Linked DNA regions of Homo sapiens: region 1 is linked to region 2. Evidence: fine-mapped expression QTL. A gene starts in region 2. The other region holds a variant in brackets. All regions are shown on one strand. Distances are between the middles of the regions.

What was found. PIP is the estimated chance that this variant, and not a neighbour inherited with it, causes the effect.
Region 1: its variant is the best candidate, but not a certain one, in a credible set for the expression of MAMDC4 in whole blood (TOPMed, PIP 0.50).

What each region holds. Positions count from the first base shown.
Region 1 is chr9:136,885,597-136,889,971 of GRCh38, reverse strand. It overlaps TRAF2 (TNF receptor associated factor 2), which reads right to left and starts at 3,456. Exons shown (of 11, transcript NM_021138.4): 1 at 3,431-3,456. MIR4479 (microRNA 4479) reads right to left here and starts at 3,239; the gene lies at 3,169-3,239. LOC105376326 (a long non-coding RNA gene) reads left to right here and starts at 3,718. Exons shown (of 3, transcript XR_930448.2): 1 at 3,718-3,874. RefSeq lists enhancers at 2,024-2,759, 2,760-3,495 and silencers at 2,872-3,681, 3,902-4,031. The variant G/C (reference allele first, on the strand shown) is at 2,520.
Region 2 is chr9:136,850,723-136,855,028 of GRCh38, reverse strand. MAMDC4 (MAM domain containing 4) reads right to left here and starts at 2,683. Exons shown (of 27, transcript NM_206920.3): 1 at 2,567-2,683; 2 at 1,820-1,927; 3 at 1,571-1,744; 4 at 1,359-1,484; 5 at 1,122-1,252; 6 at 953-1,037; 7 at 693-818; 8 at 353-490; 9 at 179-267; 10 at 1-92. The coding sequence starts at 2,612. PHPT1 (phosphohistidine phosphatase 1) reads right to left here. Exons shown (of 3, transcript NM_014172.6): 3 at 4,005-4,274. The coding sequence ends at 4,182.

The sequences.
Region 1 (4,375 bases), 35 kb before region 2:
GAACGAGCGTGCGGTGGGGACTCTCACACACGCGGTGACGAGCTGAACAAGCATGCGGGGGTGATTATCACACATGCGGTGACCGACTGAATGAGCATGCGGGGATGACTGTCACAAATGTAGTGACCGACTGAATGAGCATGCAGGGGCGACTCTCACACAAGTGGTGACCGACTGAATAAGTGTGGGGGGAACTCTCACACATGCGGTGACCAACTGACACAGTGGCTTGCACCTGTAATCCCAGCTACTTGGGAGGCTGAGGTTGGAGGATCACTTCAGGCCAGGAGTTCGAGACCAGCCTGGGAAACATAACAAGACCTCAGGTATAAAAATAAAATAACAAAAAAGTTAAAATGGCAAAGAAATGTCAAAAACAGGTTTTAAGGCCGGGCAAGGTGGCTCATACCTGTAATCCCAGCACTTTGGGAGTGCCAAGGCAGGTGGATCACCTGAGGTCAGGAGTTCGAGACCAGCCTCACCAAAGTGGAGAAACCCTGTCTCTATTAAAAACACAAAAATTAGCCGGGCATTATGGTGGGTGCCTGTAATCCCACCTACTCTGGAGGATGAGGCAGGAGAATCACTTGAACCTGGGAGGCAGAGGTTGCAGCGAGCCGAGATCGCACCATTGCACTCCAGCCTGGGCAACAAGAGCGAAACTCTGTCTCAAAAAAAGAAAAAAAAAGGCCAGGCGTGGTGGCTCACACCGGGGGACAGAGCGAGACTCCGTCTCAAAAAAAAAAAAAAAACAGAAAAAACCACACAAACAAAAAAAGAAAAACAAACAAACAAGTTTTAACGTAAAAAAGCCCCTCAGTGGTGGCTCACACCTGTAATCCCAGCACTCTGGGAGGCCGAGGTGGGCGGATCACGAGATCAGATCGAGACCACCCTGGCTAACATGGTGAAACCCCGTCTCCATTAAAAATACAAAAAATTAGCTGGGCGTGGTGGCGGGTGCCTGTAGTCCAGCTACTCGGGAGGCTGAGGCAGAAGAATAGCGTGAACCCAGGAGGCAGAGGTTGCAGTGAGCCGAGATCGTGCCACTGCACTCCAGCCGGGTGACAGAGCGAGACTCCCCTCCACAGGAGAGTGGGGGCATCTGGCACCCTTGTTGCTGGTAGGGCCGAGCTGTGTGTTCCCTTCACAATGGGACACCCCCACAAGAAATCAGAGGCCTTCACTAAGCTGGAGTCATCAGGCAGCTGAGACCTGGCATCCTGACTCTGGTGTGTGAACATGGTTTGGTGGCATCGGTGACTCTCAAAAGGACAAGCTGTATTGTTACACAAGTCAAACACTGCCCAAACCATGACATCAAATCAGATATGGGTGCAACCTGGCCGCTGCAGGGGTCACCTAGTCGCCGCAAACGCTTGGGTTCAACCCAGGCCTCGCCCTTCTCACAAGCAGACTCCAAGATGCCCCAAATGCTGGAGATTCAAACCTCAATTCATGTCTCCACCAACAGCACACAACTGCTTCATACAATACTGGACTCCACGTAAGAGTTCACTGGGTGGCACCCGATTCTTTTTGAGATGGAGTCTCGCTCTGTCACCCAGGCTGGAGTGCAGTGGCGCGATCTCGGCTCACTGCAAGCTCCGCCTCCCGGGTTCACGCCATTCTCCTGCCTCAGCCTCCGGAGTAGCTGGGACTACAGGCGTCAATGGCACCTGATTCTAACCCACTTCTATAAAAGCTCATCTGAGTAATATTCAGGAACACTGATCTGCATGCAGCCATGAATATGAGGCCCTCCAAATACTAGAAGTTAACTTTAAAACTGTAATTTCATGGCCGGGCGCGGTGGCTCATGCCTGTAATCCTAGCACTTTGGGAGGCCGAGGCGGGTGGATCACCTAAGGTCAAGAGTTTGAAACCAGCCTGGCCAACATGATGAAACCCTATCTCTACTAAAAATACAAAAAATTAGCCGGGCGTGGTGGTGCACGCCTGTAATCCCAGCTGCTCGGGAGGCTGAGGCAGAAAAATCGCTTGAACCCAGGAGGCGGAGGCTGCAGTGAGCCGAGATCGAGCCACTGCACTCCAGCCTGGGCAACAAGACCAAAACTATCTCAAAAAATAAATAAATAAAATTACAATTTTATATGTAACCCCATCTTTTTCAGGCTCAAAATAATACCAAATAGAAGCTTGATAACAACCTAAACTCTTAACAACTGTTTATACAAAAGTATCAGAAGCAAGCGTGGTAGAAGAGGAGATCTTGAACCTTACAAGTGTCCACCCATTAATACATTCAGTTCCTCTTATTAAAAACTAGGGCTATTAACAGGGAGAGAGACTGAGTTACAGGGCAGTAATTCCGTCCCTTCAAAATCATGTGGCCACAGAGCAGGGTCCGTTCTCAGTCCTAGTTTCCCTTGACTTGACCCAGACCAGACTCCCTCCTCCTCCGAGCCCCGTCTTCACCGGCTGCCAGACACCCCACCCCCTGTCGGCCCTACACCGAGTGGAGGCTTGGTGCTCTTCTGCACTGACCCTCAGCCCTC[G/C]GGGCCTCAAAATGACAACTCCAAAATACCCAGCTCTGGCCCTGACCGTTCCCCTGACCCCAGGCTGCCCATCTGGCCGCCTCCCGAGAGGCCATGGGCGCTGTGACTCCTTCATCTTGGCCTAGGAAGCACCAGCCTTCAGCTGCTCACGCCAGATTCTTGCAGACATTGCAACTCCTCTTTTTCTCGGCTCTACCTTCCACAAACATCCCCTGCTACTGCCAGGACCAGGCCCCGGCCCCGATCCCGGCCCGGTCCACCGCAGCCCATCCCCGCACTGGCTCCTTGCTGCCCCCGACCCTCCCAGCAGCCAGAGGGACTTTTCACCCAGGCTCAGCCTGGGTCTCCCCAGCCACTGGGCAGGAAGGCAGCAGAGTCGGCTCCGCCCCCAGCCTCACTGGTCTTCCCCGACCCCTGGCTGGGGGGCGCTGGCAAACTCAGGGGTCGGAGGCGCCCCTGACCCTCCCGAGCACGCAGCCGGCTGAGGGTGCGGGGCTTCGGGGACACGAGGGGCCCACAGCTGAGCGTGGAGGGGCGACAGGGTGCGGGGGAGCGACGGACCCGGGACGGGGCAGGGCCGGGTGGGCCGCCCACGGGCCTCAGGCGGTACTGGGAGCCGCGACCCCGCGCAAAACCCCGGACCGTGCCCTGGCGCTGCTCCGAGCACGGCCGCGCGCGTTCCCGAACTTTCCCGCGCCAGCCACGCTCGGACTTGGTTTCCGGCCCAGCGGCTCAGAGAAATCCCCTCGGGCTGGCCCCGCCCCCGCCCCGCGGCCTCTCCCGCCCCCGCTCCCGCTCCGGCCCGGAGTCTCCCTGAGAGGTGCCCGCGCCTGCGCCCGACCCCGCGCCCGACCCCGCACCCGACCCCGCGCCCGCGCCCGACCCCGCACCCGACCCCGCGCTCGCCTCACCCAACGGTCGCAGCGCGCCCGGAACTAAGGGCCCGCCCAGCTACCGCCCCCAACGCCGCCGCCGCCGCCGCCGCTCCGCCGCGTGCGCCTGACGGACGGACATGGGAGCCAACCAGCCAGCCCTCAGGAAGCTGTAGCGAGAGCCATTGGCCAGATACGCCCCGCTCCGAGCGCGCCTGACGGACTGACGCCGGAGCCAACCAGCGAGCCCGCAGGAGCCGCAGCGTGCGCCGATTGGTCGGCGCTGAGACGGCGTGGGTACCTAAGTCGCCCTCTGCTTTTTCCTCAAAGAGCGCGCCGGGGCGTTGGTGCGGGGAGCTGGTGAGGTGCTGCGCTGTGGGGTCCGCGCTAATTGGGTCCCTTCCCCAGGTGCGGCGAGACAGCGAGGCCCTTGCTTCCCCTCCCGTGGCCCCGGGGCGGAGACCCCTGCCGCACACCCGAGAGGTGAGCCGGGAGCCCAAGCCGGGCGACACCGGTTCCCACGAGGCGCGCGTCGCGCGCGGGACGCGGGGCCCTGGCGGGGCGGCCGCACCTACCCGACACCTGCGGGTCCCTCCGCCTCCCCCGGTGCCGGGCGCAGAGCGGCGCCTCAATTTGGGTAACATTTATGAGAAACAGGACTAAAAGAATACTGCACACTTAAGTAAGGTATTAAGGCTATGGGGTCTCCTTTTGGGGTGAGGTAATGCTCTGCAACCGGACAGTGGTGACGGCCGCCCGACATGGCCGGTGTGCTAATCTACTGGGTTGTGCACTTTATTTATTTTTTTTTTTGAGACGGAGGCTCACTCTGTCGCCCAGGCTGGAGTTCAGTGGCGCGATCTCGACTCACTGCAACCTCCGCCTCCCGGGTTCAAGCGATTCTCCTGCCTCAGCCTCCCGAGTAGCTGGGACTACAGGCGCCCGCCATCACGCCCGGCTAATGTTTGTATTTTTGATAGAGAC
Region 2 (4,306 bases):
ACGGGGGCCCGGGGGGCGCCGGGCCCCAGAGTCTGCAGGAACAGCTGGAGGCAGCCAGCCTCAGACCCACTCAGGTACTGATAGAAGACCAGCTGTGGAACCAAGAGCTGGCTGGGGGCCTGCACCGGGGCAGCCAGCACGGAGAGCAGGGAGGCCCTGTGAGCCCCACCCATCTCACCGAGCAGTTGGAGGTGCCTGAGGCTTGGAATTCGGGGCTGGAGAGTATAGCAGGGGTGCCAGGCTCGGCCACGGAGACCAGGAAGGAGCCTGCGGGAAAGGACGGGAGTGGGCCAGGGCCACTGGGCTGTGGCTGCGTGGGCAGGGCCTGGGCCGGGTCCTCTGTGGGCCTCACCCTGTGCACTGTTCCGGCTGTGGTCACGGCGTGGCCAGGAGGGGCGCTCAGGACCACCAGCGCGGTGGTTCCGGGACCAGCCTTCCGAGCGGTTCCATGGGCCCAGGCCTGTCTCAAAGTCGGTGGCTATGTGGCGGCCTAGGGCAGGAGGTGGGCGTGTCAGGGCCACCAGGCAGTGCTTCCTGAAGCCGTATGGCCCCAGCTCCAGGGGGGCCCTGGCAACCACACCCCAAGAAGGACCATCCAAGGATCCAAGGCACCCCCTCCTGGATGAGTGCCAGGGCCCCCACCGAGGCGTCCAGTCTCCCAGCCTCACTCTGGGCCCCCACTCCGGCCTCACCACAGGTGAGTGGGTTCTCATCAGACAGGTCCCCGCAGTTGTCTTCCCCGTCGCACAGCTGCTGGGGCTCCACGCAGACCTTGTTCTGGCAGTGGTGGTGTCCCGGGGGACAGTTGGCCTGGGGGGCTGGGTGGGGCAGGGTTAACCCTTCACCGAGGCCCCAGGAGTGGGAGAGCACTCGGGGGCAGACAGGGTCTGAGCAGGGGAGTGGGCAGGTGGGGGCCCTCCCGGGGGTGGAACAGGAAGAGGCGGTGCCTTACTGGGCAGACCACAGTCCCAGAACTCTAGGTCATCTAGAGCCACAGCGCCCCTGTGGGTGGCATTTCGGGTGGCAGAGAAGGTCACCTGAAGAGAACAGGCTCTTAGGACCTAAGTCAGGGCCCAGACCCCTCCTCAAGGCCCCCACTCGTCCAGACCCTCCCAGCTCACTCGGAAGTCACCCCGGATGCGGCCTGTGGTCACTGCCAACTCCTGCCAGCCAGGGCCCCAGGGCCCTGTGCTCTGCCACAGGGTCAGGGTCTCTGCGCCATGGGTCAGCTCCACCCGCAGTTCAGCCACATCTGCAATGTCAGGGGTCCCAGGGCAGCTGCGGCCCTGCTTGTCCCCAGCTGCCCACCCGCCCTCCCCTTGGGCACCCCCCACGAGCCTTGGGGGTCCAGGGTGCACCTCCAGAGGCCGCGTGGTACCAGAGCCTCAGCTTGCAAGAGGAGGCTGCCTCTCGCAGGGTTGGCGAGCGCAGGGCTGCGGTGGATGCCTCTTTCCCTCGGTGGGTTCCAACGGCCATGTACCAGCCTGGCGCAGGTGAGAGGTCAGGAGACGGGGCAGGGAGCAAGGAGGGTATTGGGACAGGGGCGCACAGAGACTTGCCCTGGCCTCACCCAAGTCGGTGCCCAGTGTGTGGTCTGAGTGAGGCCCAGGACCCTCCAGTGCGGCCCCTGCCCTGTCTCGGAGCCAGCTGTAGCCTGAGGTACTAATGTCCCGCCAGCCGCAGGGGTCCTGCTCGAAGTCACAGGCGAAGGGGGCGCCCAGGGTGGGCGAGGCCCCGTGGTAACCTGGGAGAGTGGGTGGTCAGGTGTGTGCCAGACCTGCTCGCACTGGCCCTGCCCGCCCATCTGGTCTTGGCTCACCACACTGGGCCTCATCTGAGCAGTCCCTGCAGTCACACACGAAGTTGCACACGGCCTGGCCAGGGCTCCTGCAGTGGTTGGGGACCCAGGCCCAGCCTGAGGACCCTGCTGCTGGGAGGTTGACAGCCAGGTGGCCTGGGGGCAGGGTGACCAGCCATCCCAGCCTGCCTAGGACTATTCAGTTTTAGCACTGGACATCTTTTGTCCGGGGATGCCCCTCAGACCAGGAGATGGAGCAGGGAGGGGCTGGGACCCACAGAGAACTCCCACCCGGCTCAGGACCAAGCACAGCACGTTCCTGTTTCCAGCCCTGAAGAGGCTGGGGAGGGGGACCCGGCCATGGGGCACCCCAAGAAAGGTAGCAGGAACCCAGAGTGCCCAGCAGGGAACTGGGCACTGGGAGGGCGACCCCCAATGGGAGGCATCGACGGGCGGCCCAGGGCCTCCACAAGCTCCACCCAGTCCAAGGGTGGCAGATGAAGGCTGGCAGAGCTGGGGGCACCTCCTGAGCCCTCTTGTCCCAGACTGGGAGGGGAGTCGTGCCTCTTCCTTTGCTTGGCAGGCCCGAGGACCCCATGGGCTGATTCCAGGTCACCCCCCTTGCAGGCCGGCCAAGGTAGTACCTTGCAACCCTCCTTCCCTTTGGGGCTCAGGCATCAGCCCTGGTGTCCGTCACTGCCACACAGATGGTAGGCTCAGAAGCCAGGGCCCCTGGTCCTGCCTCAGGAGTGGGACCAGACTACTTACCCAGGAACAGGACCAAGGCGGGCAGCAGGTGGCTGGACAGAGGCATGGTTGGGCCAGAGGGAGCAGTGCGGCCACACAGGGTGCCTGGGAAGTTCCGTGCGGTTATCAGCCTGCGCTGGCCCCGCACGCTGACTCTGCTGTTAAGTGGAGGGCCCCTCGGCCCGGCCCCACCCAGTGCTGACGGTGCCAAGCATGGGCCGTGAAAGTGGCCCCAGGAGGGGGCCTCTGACCCAGGGTCAGCTCCCACCTGCCCGGCTCCCTCAGACACAAGGTCAGGCTCTTCCACCCTGCCCTGCCCTGCCTGGTGAAGGGGAGGCTCCCACTGGAATGGGGAGGGACCCAGGCACCCCACCAGGACTCTGCTCGGCAGTGTGGGGCGGGCAGAGGCCGCCGTGGCCTCTCACTGTGCCTCTGGCAATAGCGTGGTGCTGGCCAAGGTCAGGACTCAACCAGTCCAGCAGCTGCAGGAGTCCAGCACGTGCACCAGAGCTGGTCCCTGCGTTCTCAGCCGTGGGGAACCTGCCTTTAAGTCAGGCTGTGGAGGATCACGCCGTCATTCATTCGTCCTGAGCAGCCAGGTGCTGTCCGGTGCCAGATACAGGGTCCCTAGGAGCCCAGAAACTTCGGTTTCTCATGGAGCAGACTCATGCTTGGGGCAGGGTCTTTGGGGCTGGGGAAGGAGTGTGGCATTTGGGGCCAGGCCCTGTTTGTGATTTCCCATGGTGTGACCTCGGAGCTTGTGTCACTGAGCCTCAGTGTCCCGGTCTGTAAAATGTGGTTATGACAGTGCCCGTCTGGAGAGGCTGGCCGGAGGACCAGTGAGCTGACAAAGGTGGGGGTGCCCTGTGTACAACCAGCCCTGGCCCCCAGGGTGCCCCTGCACCACCCCATGGAGTCCCACTGTGTATGGGGCTTCCCAGGGCAAGGCCTGAACCCGTGTCCTGCCCACAGCCCTGCCGGGTGCAAGAGGGACCTGGGAGGGGCCTCCAGAGTCAACGTGAGCCTGTGGGGTAGATGCAGCTGTGCGACCTGACCCTGGATACTGGTAGGCCCCATGGGGCTGGTCATGGAAGGAGCCTGCAGGTCACGGAAGGAGCCTCAGGGCAGACAGGACACTGGGGAGCCCTGGGATGGGCTCATAGGAGGGAGCACTGGTGGGCGCCCCAGGTCTTGGCCAGCCCGAGGGACCAGGCCCTGACTCCTCTCGCAAGGGCTTGCCAGACCTCCTCCAAGATGCCCTGGAGGACGATGGCCGTGGGAAGAGCAGTCAGGCCATCAGCGGGCCCCTTTATCAGACCCCAAAGGGCTGAGTGTGCACCGCCACTCCCTGGGGCCACTCCTGTGTTCCCCCACCCACCTGCTTTAGTTAGGGTCTGGGGGCCCCCGGAGGTGGTGACGCAGGGTGCAGGAAGCCAAGGACAGAGTTCAGAAGCCGGCAGGTGTGGCAACACGTTTAATTCTGTGGCCAGGCTAGCCTGTCTCCAAGGCCTGGTGGACAGCACGTCACCAGAGGCTGCCGCAGGAGCAGGCAGGGCCAGCCCTGCAAGAGGAGTGCAGGCAAAGGCGGGGGCTCTGAAGTGGCTGCTGGAGGCAGCAGGCCCCGGGCTGGGAGTGCTCAGTAGCCGTCGTTAGCCCAGGTGACCTCGTAGTCGGGGTACTTGGCTTTGATTTTCTCAGTTGAAATGGCGTGCTGGGCAGGACCATAGGCCTGGAGAAGAGAAGACGCCTGCTGGCACTACC